Linked DNA regions of Homo sapiens: region 2 is linked to region 1. The links come from fine-mapping of genetic effects on gene expression. A gene starts in region 1. The other region holds a variant in brackets. All regions are shown on one strand. Distances are between the middles of the regions.

Evidence for each region.
Region 2: its variant is fine-mapped to the expression of LYPD1 in whole blood (TOPMed, PIP above 0.99).

Annotation. Positions count from the first base shown.
Region 1 is chr2:132,667,618-132,672,617 of GRCh38, reverse strand. LYPD1 (LY6/PLAUR domain containing 1) reads left to right here and starts at 2,413. Exons shown (of 3, transcript NM_144586.7): 1 at 2,413-2,737; 2 at 4,081-4,218. The coding sequence starts at 2,686. NCKAP5 (NCK associated protein 5) reads left to right here. Exons shown (of 20, transcript NM_207363.3): 20 at 1-830. RefSeq lists an enhancer at 2,587-3,550.
Region 2 is chr2:132,621,632-132,627,141 of GRCh38, reverse strand. All of the region lies in intron 1 of GPR39 (G protein-coupled receptor 39), which reads right to left. Among named protein-coding and RNA genes, the nearest start is that of LYPD1, 46 kb to the left of the region's middle. The variant C/T (reference allele first, on the strand shown) is at 3,543.

The sequences.
Region 1 (5,000 bases):
ACTGAAGTTTTTGTGAAGTTCGTTGTCCTGGTCCTCAAATTGTTTGTGGGTACACTCTGTAAACCTACAACAGGGCCTGCCAAAAAATCGGAGGGTTCCTCCTCATCTCCATCTCACAAATCTCAATTTGATGGAAATGTTCATTTTAGTGTAATTTCAGATTCGTTGCCAGAGATTCAGGTGATAGTAATAAGTGTCATTCTGCTTCTGCTGAAAAATGAAAAGGGTCCTGAAGTGTGGACACTGATTGGGAGTGTGACATTGTATCAGAAATGACCGAATTCTATTCCCAATACCAGTTTTTCCTTCCAGACATTTCTTTAGATTGTCTTTTACTTAGTGCTTCTCTATGATCCTGAATATTATTTGATTTTTATCTTCTTGCTCTTTTTATTAAAATCTGGGCACTCTAAAAATGAAAACAAATTTCTATTTGCAATGTTCACTTTTAAAAATAAAATTAATGGTGCTACGAAGAATTCTTTTTAATATCCTTTTTTTTCTACAAAGACTGTTTATATGTAAGGATAAATTCTATTTTAAAGGTTATGTGTATTTTTTCTAGATGTGAACTATTTATAATTACTTATGTACAGGAGCTTGTAAACTAGGCCCAATAGAAATATTTTTAGGATCTATATGGCTACTTTAGCACATAATTGTTTCTTTAAAGAGTATTGTATGATCAGTGTTATTTGGTTAATTTGTGCAATTTGTTTTATTTTATCTTAAATGAAAATTATGTAAAATGTCCTTGTCTTTCAGACTTTAAAAAATCTTTTTGTTTCCTTTCTGAATAAAAGTTATATCACATTTGCACCCTCTGAAAACAGAAAATAACTTGCTCAAGGACCTTTTGGCCCAGTCAGTTACTTGAATCATGACTCACACGTGCTCTTACAATGGGTTCCCAGAAGGAATAAATAAATTGGCCCTTTTGCTCCAGAGATAGTAATTTAGCCAATTGTAAGATCAGAGTCTGCAGACAGGTGAGTAATGGTCAAAGCATTTCAGTCTCCCCGAGGGGTTAACCAAATAGAAATGAAAGAAGGGGGAGAGGGAGGGAGGGAGGGAGAGAAGGAGCCTGAGGCAGATATGGAACGATCTCTGCAGAGGAATTACAAAGAAAGTCATTTAAGCCCCTTTACAGACCAGCTCTGCTGGGAGGATGCAGAAATAAATGATCAGCGTCCCGGCGTGAGAGAGCTGCCCCCAGAAGTGGCCGGGGGAGAAAAGGGTGAAGAGGAGCTAAAGCTTAGGAGGCGATTTCCACGGAAATGGATGCTCCCTAAGGATGTGCGGAAAGGGGATGGGAATGTGCGGATTGGGGGCGGGGGCACCAACGCACTCCGGCGGGCAAGCGGTCTCCCGCACCACCTGCTGCAAGGCTCGGGAAGGAAGGCGAAGATAGCACCGGGGCATCCCCGGGAGTCCGCAAGGTGGGTCACTTGGACTTTGCGGAAAGAAGACGAATTTGAGGGGTGTGGGGAGCAGCCAGAGGCCGAGTCCGAGGCTGGGATGGCCTTTCAGGAGAGGACGTGGGAGTATGTGCTAATAATCGGTGGCTTTGGGGAAAGCAGAATGGAGCCGGCTGGCGTTTGGGAGACAAGGAATGGAGGAGAACAACCCTCTTCCTCACCCTGATTTGCTTTCTGGTAGGACCTCACGGCAGGTGTCCCCGGGACGGCGTTCTCCTAGGCTAGGCGACCAGGGCGGTGTCAATGCACCCTCCAGCGGTGCGCGCAGGCGGGAGAAGGGAGGGCGGCCCGGGCAAGTGAGACAGTTAAGGCAGTGTCCCCACCACACCCCCACCCAGATTGGCCACGCCGAGCTGGTTCTTGACAGAAGGCCTTCGCGGAGGAAGAGGGGGCACAGCTGCACAGGACACCCTACGGAGCCTGCGGGCGTGGAACTTTGCCAGGCGCACGGGAACGCGCGCCCTTCCTGTCAGCCTCCCGGGGCGCCAGGCTCCCGCGGCCCGCAGCGGGACAGCCTCAGTTGTGTGGGCTGGACCCAGTCGCTGGGGTACCGACCAGTCCTGGAAGGCGCAGAGGACGTGGAGTGGGGAGGCTGCCTTCCTATGTGCGAAGGGCCAGCCGGGCACGCAGTCCTCAGACCCTAGTCCGCACCCGGCAGGTCCCCACGGCACCTGCTGCGCCCTCCTCGCCGCTCCCCCAACCTCCCCATCTCAGAAAACTACCAGTTCTCTCCCGCCCCCCGGCGCCCCTTTCCCAGGAACGTGCGGAGGCGGGAGAAGAGGAAGACAGGAAGGGGGTGGGGATGTGAAGCGACCGTCCCAGCCTTCCCCGCCCGCCACCCCCACCCCAACTCGGCAGCCGTCACGTGATGCCTGGAGTGGGAGGTGGGGAGAAAAGGCGAGACTTTTGTGGGTGCTCCCGATCGCCAGTAGTTCCTTCAGTCTCAGCCGCCAACTCCGGAGGCGCGGTGCTCGGCCCGGGAGCGCGAGCGGGAGGAGCAGAGACCCGCAGCCGGGAGCCCGAGCGCGGGCGATGCAGGCTCCGCGAGCGGCACCTGCGGCTCCTCTAAGCTACGACCGTCGTCTCCGCGGCAGCAGCGCGGGCCCCAGCAGCCTCGGCAGCCACAGCCGCTGCAGCCGGGGCAGCCTCCGCTGCTGTCGCCTCCTCTGATGCGCTTGCCCTCTCCCGGCCCCGGGACTCCGGGAGAATGTGGGTCCTAGGCATCGCGGCAACTTTTTGCGGATTGTTCTTGCTTCCAGGTGAGAATACCCAGAGGCCAGCAGCCGAGGCCAGGTGCGCACAATCCATCTACCCGCCAGCCCTTTTGCCCCCAAGGCGCCCACCTCGGGGCCAGCCCTGCGCTGGGGCTGCCCAGCGGGAGTTGGCGGCCGCGACTGGTGCCCCGGGGCGCGAGGCTGGGAAAGTGTCCAAGTCCCGCGCTGCAGGAGGAGAGCGGGGAGCGGCGGGTTTGCGGGACTCCGGGCTGCAGCTTGTCCGGCTGCACCGTCGGGAGAAGCTGGGCTTGAGAGGAGGGAGGGTCCGAGCGGTGCTGGGTTCTGGGCGAGGGAGAGGGGGCGACATCTCCCGAACCCTGCCAAGTTGTCTGGCGCCTCCGGCACCCCGTGGGAGTGGCGCCGCCGACAGGTGAGCGATGCGCGAGGCAGCCTGCGGCCACGCTGAAGCTGGGTTGCTGCGCTCAGAGTGCGATAGATGTGGGGCTGCGGGAGCGTGGGTAGTTGGGTCTAGACAGGAGCGCGTACACCGAGAACAGCCAGGCCGAAGCGTCCAGAGGCGCAAAGGTCTCGCGTCCTCTCTCCAGTTCGCCTACTGGCTCCCGACTAAGCTCTGCAGAGCTGGAACCCCGACCACTGACCCTAGTCGAACGGTTGTCCTGAAAGCCGGGGCCTGGAAGAAAGGGCTGCGGGGTCGGGGATCCAGGGTGCGCGCGCTCACAAACGCCCTTTCCCACCCTCTGTGGCCATTCGGGTCGCCGCGGGGACGGCCCCGGAGAAGGGCCGCCGACCCGGGCTCGGGGACTTGCGGCGCAGCAGCGCTTGGCGTCTGGCACCTCCACCCAAGTTGTTCCCAGGTGGTCGCTCAGGGATCCTCAGAGCCCTGGCACAGAAACGCTGACTTTAAAAATTAAATAAATAAAAACTAAAAAGACGTCTGCGAATGTAATCACGAATGGTGCCAAAATAGTAATTAAGTAATTTGTAACCAATTAGCAATTAGGCAAATCCTTTGGCTTAGGCTGGAGCTAACGCACATCTCCAGAGCTACTTCACTCTTGCGGTGGTACCGTCCCCACCCTCCCTTCAACTTCTTGGGAAAAGGCCTGGGGTGGTAATGGATGGGCGCTTTGTGTCTAGAGCCGGGGTCCAGGGGTGGCGGGCACTATTCCACTTTCTTCCGTAGGACCCTAGGTACCCGCGCCGCCCCCTGCCGGTGTCAGCCACATCCAGCCCTACCCGGAGACCCAGGAGTGGTCTAAGCCTGCCAGAGGCTGGGAGCCGCCTGGCTCTGAGGCGTGGGATGGTCGTGATTTCCGGGGTGGGCTCTGTGGGGGCCGGATCTGAACCCGACTGCGTCTGTCTCGCAGGCTTTGCGCTGCAAATCCAGTGCTACCAGTGTGAAGAATTCCAGCTGAACAACGACTGCTCCTCCCCCGAGTTCATTGTGAATTGCACGGTGAACGTTCAAGACATGTGTCAGAAAGAAGTGATGGAGCAAAGTGCCGGTAAGAGCCTGGCAGCCCTCCCCCTCGCTCTTAAGCCTGGGCTGTGGGGTGGGAGTGAGGGGGCCATTAAATAGCAGGAAAAAGGACTGACTTTGATTTAATGCCCACACACTGGTTATCGCAGATTTAGTTTTACAGTGCTGGGAAAATGAAGAGTTCCAAGTTACTTTAATCTCATTAGAGTTAATTACCAAGGCTTCTCCCCAAGGGTCTTGGGAGGGGAAGTGCATGTAAATTAGTGGCTCTCCTCTTTTTATTTACTCCCTTCACCTCCCTATGCTAAAAGCTGATGGAGGTAGAAAATATATGGCTAACCAGCCCTGGCTTGGGCAACTAGACAGTAGCCTGTGAGCATTGTCAGCCTGAAATATGGAGCTAGTTGAAGCTCCCAGAGGTCAGAGCTTGAAAAATGTGTTTTGTCATAGAGGCACACCATATTTCCTTGAAGAACACTACAGGATCTTTGTTTAATTTTAGAACTAATGCATCAACTTCCAGGCACAAATTGCCAAGATCTTTCAAAGGAATGCCGTTCTCAGCCCTACCAGCTTAGCTGCTGGCTAGCTGAGAAGAAGTCCTGAGCATCCTGTGGGGGAAGGGGAGGTCTTGTGGGATAGCCCTCACTCCCTCTAGTTGACCAAGAATCTTCTCACTGAGGTAGAACTTTCCAACCCTCTCCTCACCCCCTACCCCAGCTGTCTTATCAGAAGTCAAAGTTCCCCAAAGTATATCTGGAACTTTGGGAGAATAGGTAGAGCTGTTACTTCAGTTTCAAGGTCAAA
Region 2 (5,510 bases), 46 kb after region 1:
TCCAGATCAGGCCCGTAAGAGGCAACCTCAGGACATCTGCTGGAAAAAAAAAAATATTCTGCTGGAGTTGCTAAACCAGGAAAACAAGCCTGTAACTCTGTGGCCATGACATCCCCAACACTGGGGCGGCTTCCCTGAAAAGCTCTCCTTTGCCAATGCACAGGAAGGCAAAGACATAACATTGTGAGAAGGAGAAAGAATTATTTCTAATATTGTTTGAGCCTGGATCCTACAATCCTAAAATAGGATCTACCTATAGGCTTTTCAATTATATAAGCTAATACATTCTTTTTTCTTAAGCCAATGTGAATATGGTTTTCACTTACTTCCAACCATAAGAGTCTCAATTATATAAATGTCTTTAATGTAGTGGCCTGCGGGGAGGTTGTTCAGCCTCCTAAGGTAACATCACTTAGTCTCTCAGGGATAACCTGGAGGCCTCCAACCATAAACAGACATTTCCTTTTGCCCATTTGAACTGAGAGACTATTCAATACCACTCACATCACAAAGGAGTTTACTTATTTGAAGCCCTATTTCTCTCCTTTCTCTTTATTGACTAGAGAAACCCAATCATTTCCTTTCAAAGGAAATCCATACTTATTTACTTGGTTCTTGTTTAAAAAAAGAAAAAACCAGCTCTCCTTTCTCTTCCCTCAGGGGAGACATTTTTGGATGTAGAACTCAGGGATGGAAGGGCTGTCAGAGGACACTGTAGTGCAGCCTTATTATCTCGCCAATGTGAAAGCAGAGGCTGCTCGCTGAGCCACTATCATCAGCAGCCAAGTCCTCCAGCTTCCAGGCCAGGGCCTGCCCTCCAACCCCAATATTCCAGCTGACACCAATGCCTCCAATGACCCTGTACATGGTCAAAGGTACTTATGGGTTGATTTAAATACTAAAGACTTGTGAAGATGCCTTTGGAGAAAAGCACAGTAGCCTTGGATTCTAGTCCCAGCTCTGTACTAACCAGCAGTGTCACCTTGGGGGATGTCATTTAACCATTTTAGGCTACTTTTTTAGTTTTTTGTTTTTTTTTTTTGAGATGGAGTCTCGCTCTGTCGCCCAGGCTGGAGTGCAGTGGTGCGGTCTCGGCTCACTGCAACCTCCGCCACCCAGGTTCACGCCATTCTCCTGCCTCAGCCTCCCGAGTAGCTGGGACTATAGGCACCCACCACCACGCCCAGATAATTTTTGTATTTTTACTAGAGACAGGGTTTCACCGTGTTAGCCAGGATGGTCTCGATCTCCCAACCTTGTGATCCACCCGCCTTGGCCTCCCAAAGAGCTGGTGAGCCACTGCACCCAGCCAGGCTTGTTTCTTTATTAATAAAATTGGGGGGTTGGACTAAGAGAATCATAAAATGTCAGAAGGTTAATGAAGCTAAGGCAGATGATCACAGACATATAGAAAACAGAGTGCTGAATCAGCAGCACAGAGGAATAAAAACTCATTCCAATGTTGGACTCTGAAGGTGAACATCTTCAAAAAGATGTAGGAAGAGAAGGAACTGAAAGCCCTATAAAGCTGTATACTGAAAACATGGCATTTCCCCCCCTTCTGTTCTCATATGAGCCATTGGTGCTTCCAAATTTGTCTCTTTAAATCTTCGTAAAACTGGAATGCACTATGTGCCGAGAAGTCAAGTTTGCCAATCTGTCTAGTGGTGCTGGTTTATGGCACTTATTACAGCTTATTATCCACAACTCCCCACTTTGACTCCAAAAATTGTCCTACAATCAGCAGAAAACTCATGGAGAATATATAAAGTATTCCTACAAAACAACAAGAAAAAAAGATAAATAATCCAATAGAGAAAATGGGCAGAAGACTTGAAAAGGCACTTCACAGAGGAAGGAGGCCAGCCAAGTGGCCAGTCAACAAATGCCAGGATGTCCCTCATCAGGAGTCATCACATAACTGCAAATTAACACCACAGCAAGACGTCGCCATGTACTCAACAGAATGGCCAAATTAAGAAAGGTAGAGGGGAAAAAGCCACGTAGAAGCAAAGCAAAAAGCCATGTAGAAGTAAAAAAGCCATGTAGAAGCAAAAAAAAAAAAAAAATTGGAGCACCTAGAACTCCCGTACACTGCCAGCGTGGGTTGTAAATTGGTGCAACTACTCTGGAAAAGTGTTTGACAGTCTCTAGTAGAGCTGTTCATGTGCAGAACCTATGACCCAGAAATTTGCTTCTAAGTATATGCAAAGAGAAAAGGGTAAAATATGTCCACCTAAAGACATGCACTAGGATCTTCAGGTCTATATTGATCCCCGACTGGGAACTACACAAAAGCTCATCAATGGTAGAAAACACAGACTAACTGTGGAATATTCACGCAACGACATACTATACACTGCACACAGCAGTGAGGATCAGCAGGCTAAAGCTGCACCCTAGAACATGAGCAAATCTCACAAACATATGTCCACTGAAGAAGGCAGATGCGGAAGATTACATTTTGTTTGATTTTGTAGAGAAACTACAAAAACAAGAGAAGCTAAGGTATGGTGTTAGAAGTCAGAATGATGGTTACCTGAGAGGGAATAAGTACAAGAGGACACAAAGCAGAAATTTCAGGAGTACTAGTCATCTGGTTATGTGAGTATGTTCAAGCTATAAACATCTAATGTGTGCACTTTTCAGTATGTATGTTGTAAACTTTAATAAAAAGTTCAAAAATATTTCTTTCGAATTATTCCAGCATTGATAATAAATGTCATGGTCACTATCATGAAGATCATATGTTGCATCTCTAACCACTGCTACATCTAATTGTTACTGTATTTGGAGATAGGGTCTTAACGAGGCAATTACAGTAAAATGGGGTCATTACAATGAGCCCCAATCTAATATGACTTGTGTCCTTACAGGAAGAGGAAATTTGGACACAGACATGCACAGACAAGAGGGACAACCACAGAAAGACACAGGGAGAAGAGGGCCATCTGTGAGCCAAGGAGAGAAGCCCCAAGAGCCAACCCTACCGACACCTTGATCTTAGACTTTTAGCCTCCGGAATTGTGAGACAATATATGTCTGTTGTTTATGCCACCGAACCCACGTTATTTTATCATGGTAGCCCCTAGCAAACTCATGTTGTCACCCAGGTTATCCCTGGCTTCCTTTTAAGCAGGTTACTGTGATGTAAATTAAGCCATTTCCAGGGAGGCAGAAGGATCTTGGGCTGCTGGTGGAGGTGAGGGGGTGGTCAAGGGAGTGGGCTGCTCCTCTACCCTGGAGCATCAGCTCCAGGCTGCTTCTGGCTTTCCCATCATTCCAAAATCTTCCTTGGCTGAACTAAAAAGGAGTGAGCCACCTTCCCAAGGCAATTGTGCGGGCTTCTCCACCTCAAAGCAATCACAGCAGAAGGGGTTCCAGGATTTTTGCTTTAATCATCACAGAAATGTTTCCAGCTAGAAGAGACAACAGAGATCATCTTACCCAGCCTTCTCATTTTGTAAATGAGGAAAGAAACATCAAGAGAAGTTAGGAAACTGGCCAAAGCCACACAGCTAGTTAGTGAGGAGCCAGGTTTC[C/T]GGACTGGGGCTCTGAATGCTGAGTCATTTTTGCCTTCGCTTTTTGAAGGGCAGGGCGAGGAAAAGGGATAAAGGGAATAGTTTAACTTCTTTTATAAGCTTTAACTTTATTCCTGACTTTTGAGGTGGCACCAGACTGTCCCAGTCTTCCTTCTCCCTCCATTCTTTTCTTACTCTTCTTTACTGTCCCTCTCTCCTTCCCTTCAGGCGCCCCTGGCCACAGCCCTTCTTTTTCAGATCTTCCTTCAACGGTATCAGGAGCGTGGAGTCCAGGGCACTGGGTTTTCCCAGCTGTGTGGCTTTAGGCAAGTCAATGAAACTCTGTGCTGGGCTTCCCTCGTCCATCCCAGGGGCTCCACTGCCTCTCTGGGGCTTGGGCAAGCTTCTTGAGGACTGAGCTCTGACTTTTTTTTTCCTTTTGAAGGGGCCTGGGGAGTCATGCCTTACAAACCATAAAATCTCATTAAATAGGTCTTATTTATTTATTTGAGACAGAGTCTCGCTTTGTCACCCAGGCTGGAGTGCAATGGCATGATCTTAGCTCACTGCAACCTCTGCCTCCCGAGTTCAAGTGTTTCTCCTGCCTCAGCCTCCTGAGTAGCTGGGATTACAGGCACCCGCCACCACACCCGGCTACTTTGTGTATTTTTAGTACAGACAGGGTTTCACCAGGTTGGTTAGGCTGCTCTTGAACTCCTGACCTTGTGATCCTCCCACCTCGGTCTGCAAAGTGCTGGGATTACAGGCATGAGCCACCGCACCTGGCCAACAGGTCTTATTTTTTGATCTACTACAATGTGGCTCACTTTTCAACCTTCTTCTGGTATGGCATCACATGATGGGTGGCAGACCCCCTTATTTTAACTTAAGTATTCCTTTCTATCAACTCCAAATTTTTAGACAAAGCTTAAGTCTTTCAATCAATTGCCACAAAAAGAATCCCTAAACCTACCTATGACTTGTAAGCTTCTGCTTCGCGGTATCCAGCTTTTTCAGGCTGAATCAATATATACCTTCCAGGTATTGATTTATGGCTTTACCTGCAATTTCTGACTCCATGAAATATATAAAGCCAAACTGTAACCCAACTGCCTCAAGTGCACTTTCTAAGGATTTCCTGAGACTGTTTCCCTGGTCCATGGTCACTCATATTGGCTCAGAATAAACCTTAGATATTTTGGTAGATTTTTGTTTTGTTTTGTTTTTGAGAGGGAGTCTCACTCTGTCGCCCAGGCTGGAGTGCAATGGTGCGATCTCAGCTCACTGCAACCTCCGCCTCCCAGTTTCAAGAAATTCTCGTGCCTCAGCCTCCACAGTAGGTGGGATTATAGGTGTGCGCCACCACACCTGGCTAAATTTTGTATTTGTAGGAGAGACAGGGTGTCACCATTTTGGCCTGGCTGGTCTCGAACTCCTGACTTCAAGTGATCCACCCACCTCAGCCTCCCAAAATGCTGGTACTACAGGCATAAGCCACTGCACCCTGCCAATTCTGGCAGACTTTTATTTTTCCATCGTCCTTCTCAAAGGTCTCTCCCCAGCCCAGGGGACCCCTCACCTCAGCAGGAGTACCCTCTGGGGCAGGAGAGCATGAGCAGAGTTAGGTGGACAGGTGGCCATCTCTATGCATATCCCTCTCATCGCCAGCCTGAGATTTGTGACAGGACCTCTCTAATGCCCCACACCCCAGCACCCTATGGAAGCTGCTGGAAATAGAGAAGATGCCTTCTTACTTAGGACGAAGGAACCAGAAGGCTGCAATGTATTGCATTGCCCAAGGCCCAGCTTGGGGTTTTATAAATTCACGCCCTGCAATAACCTTGGAAGATGGACATCACTGAACCCACTTAACAGCTGGGAAACAGGCTTGTCCAAAGACACCAGCTGGCTGGGCTGGAGACAGGGTCTGAGCTGGAATCTCTCTGGTTCCACCATACTCAAACCTTCTGTGGCACCCCAGCTGTCCCT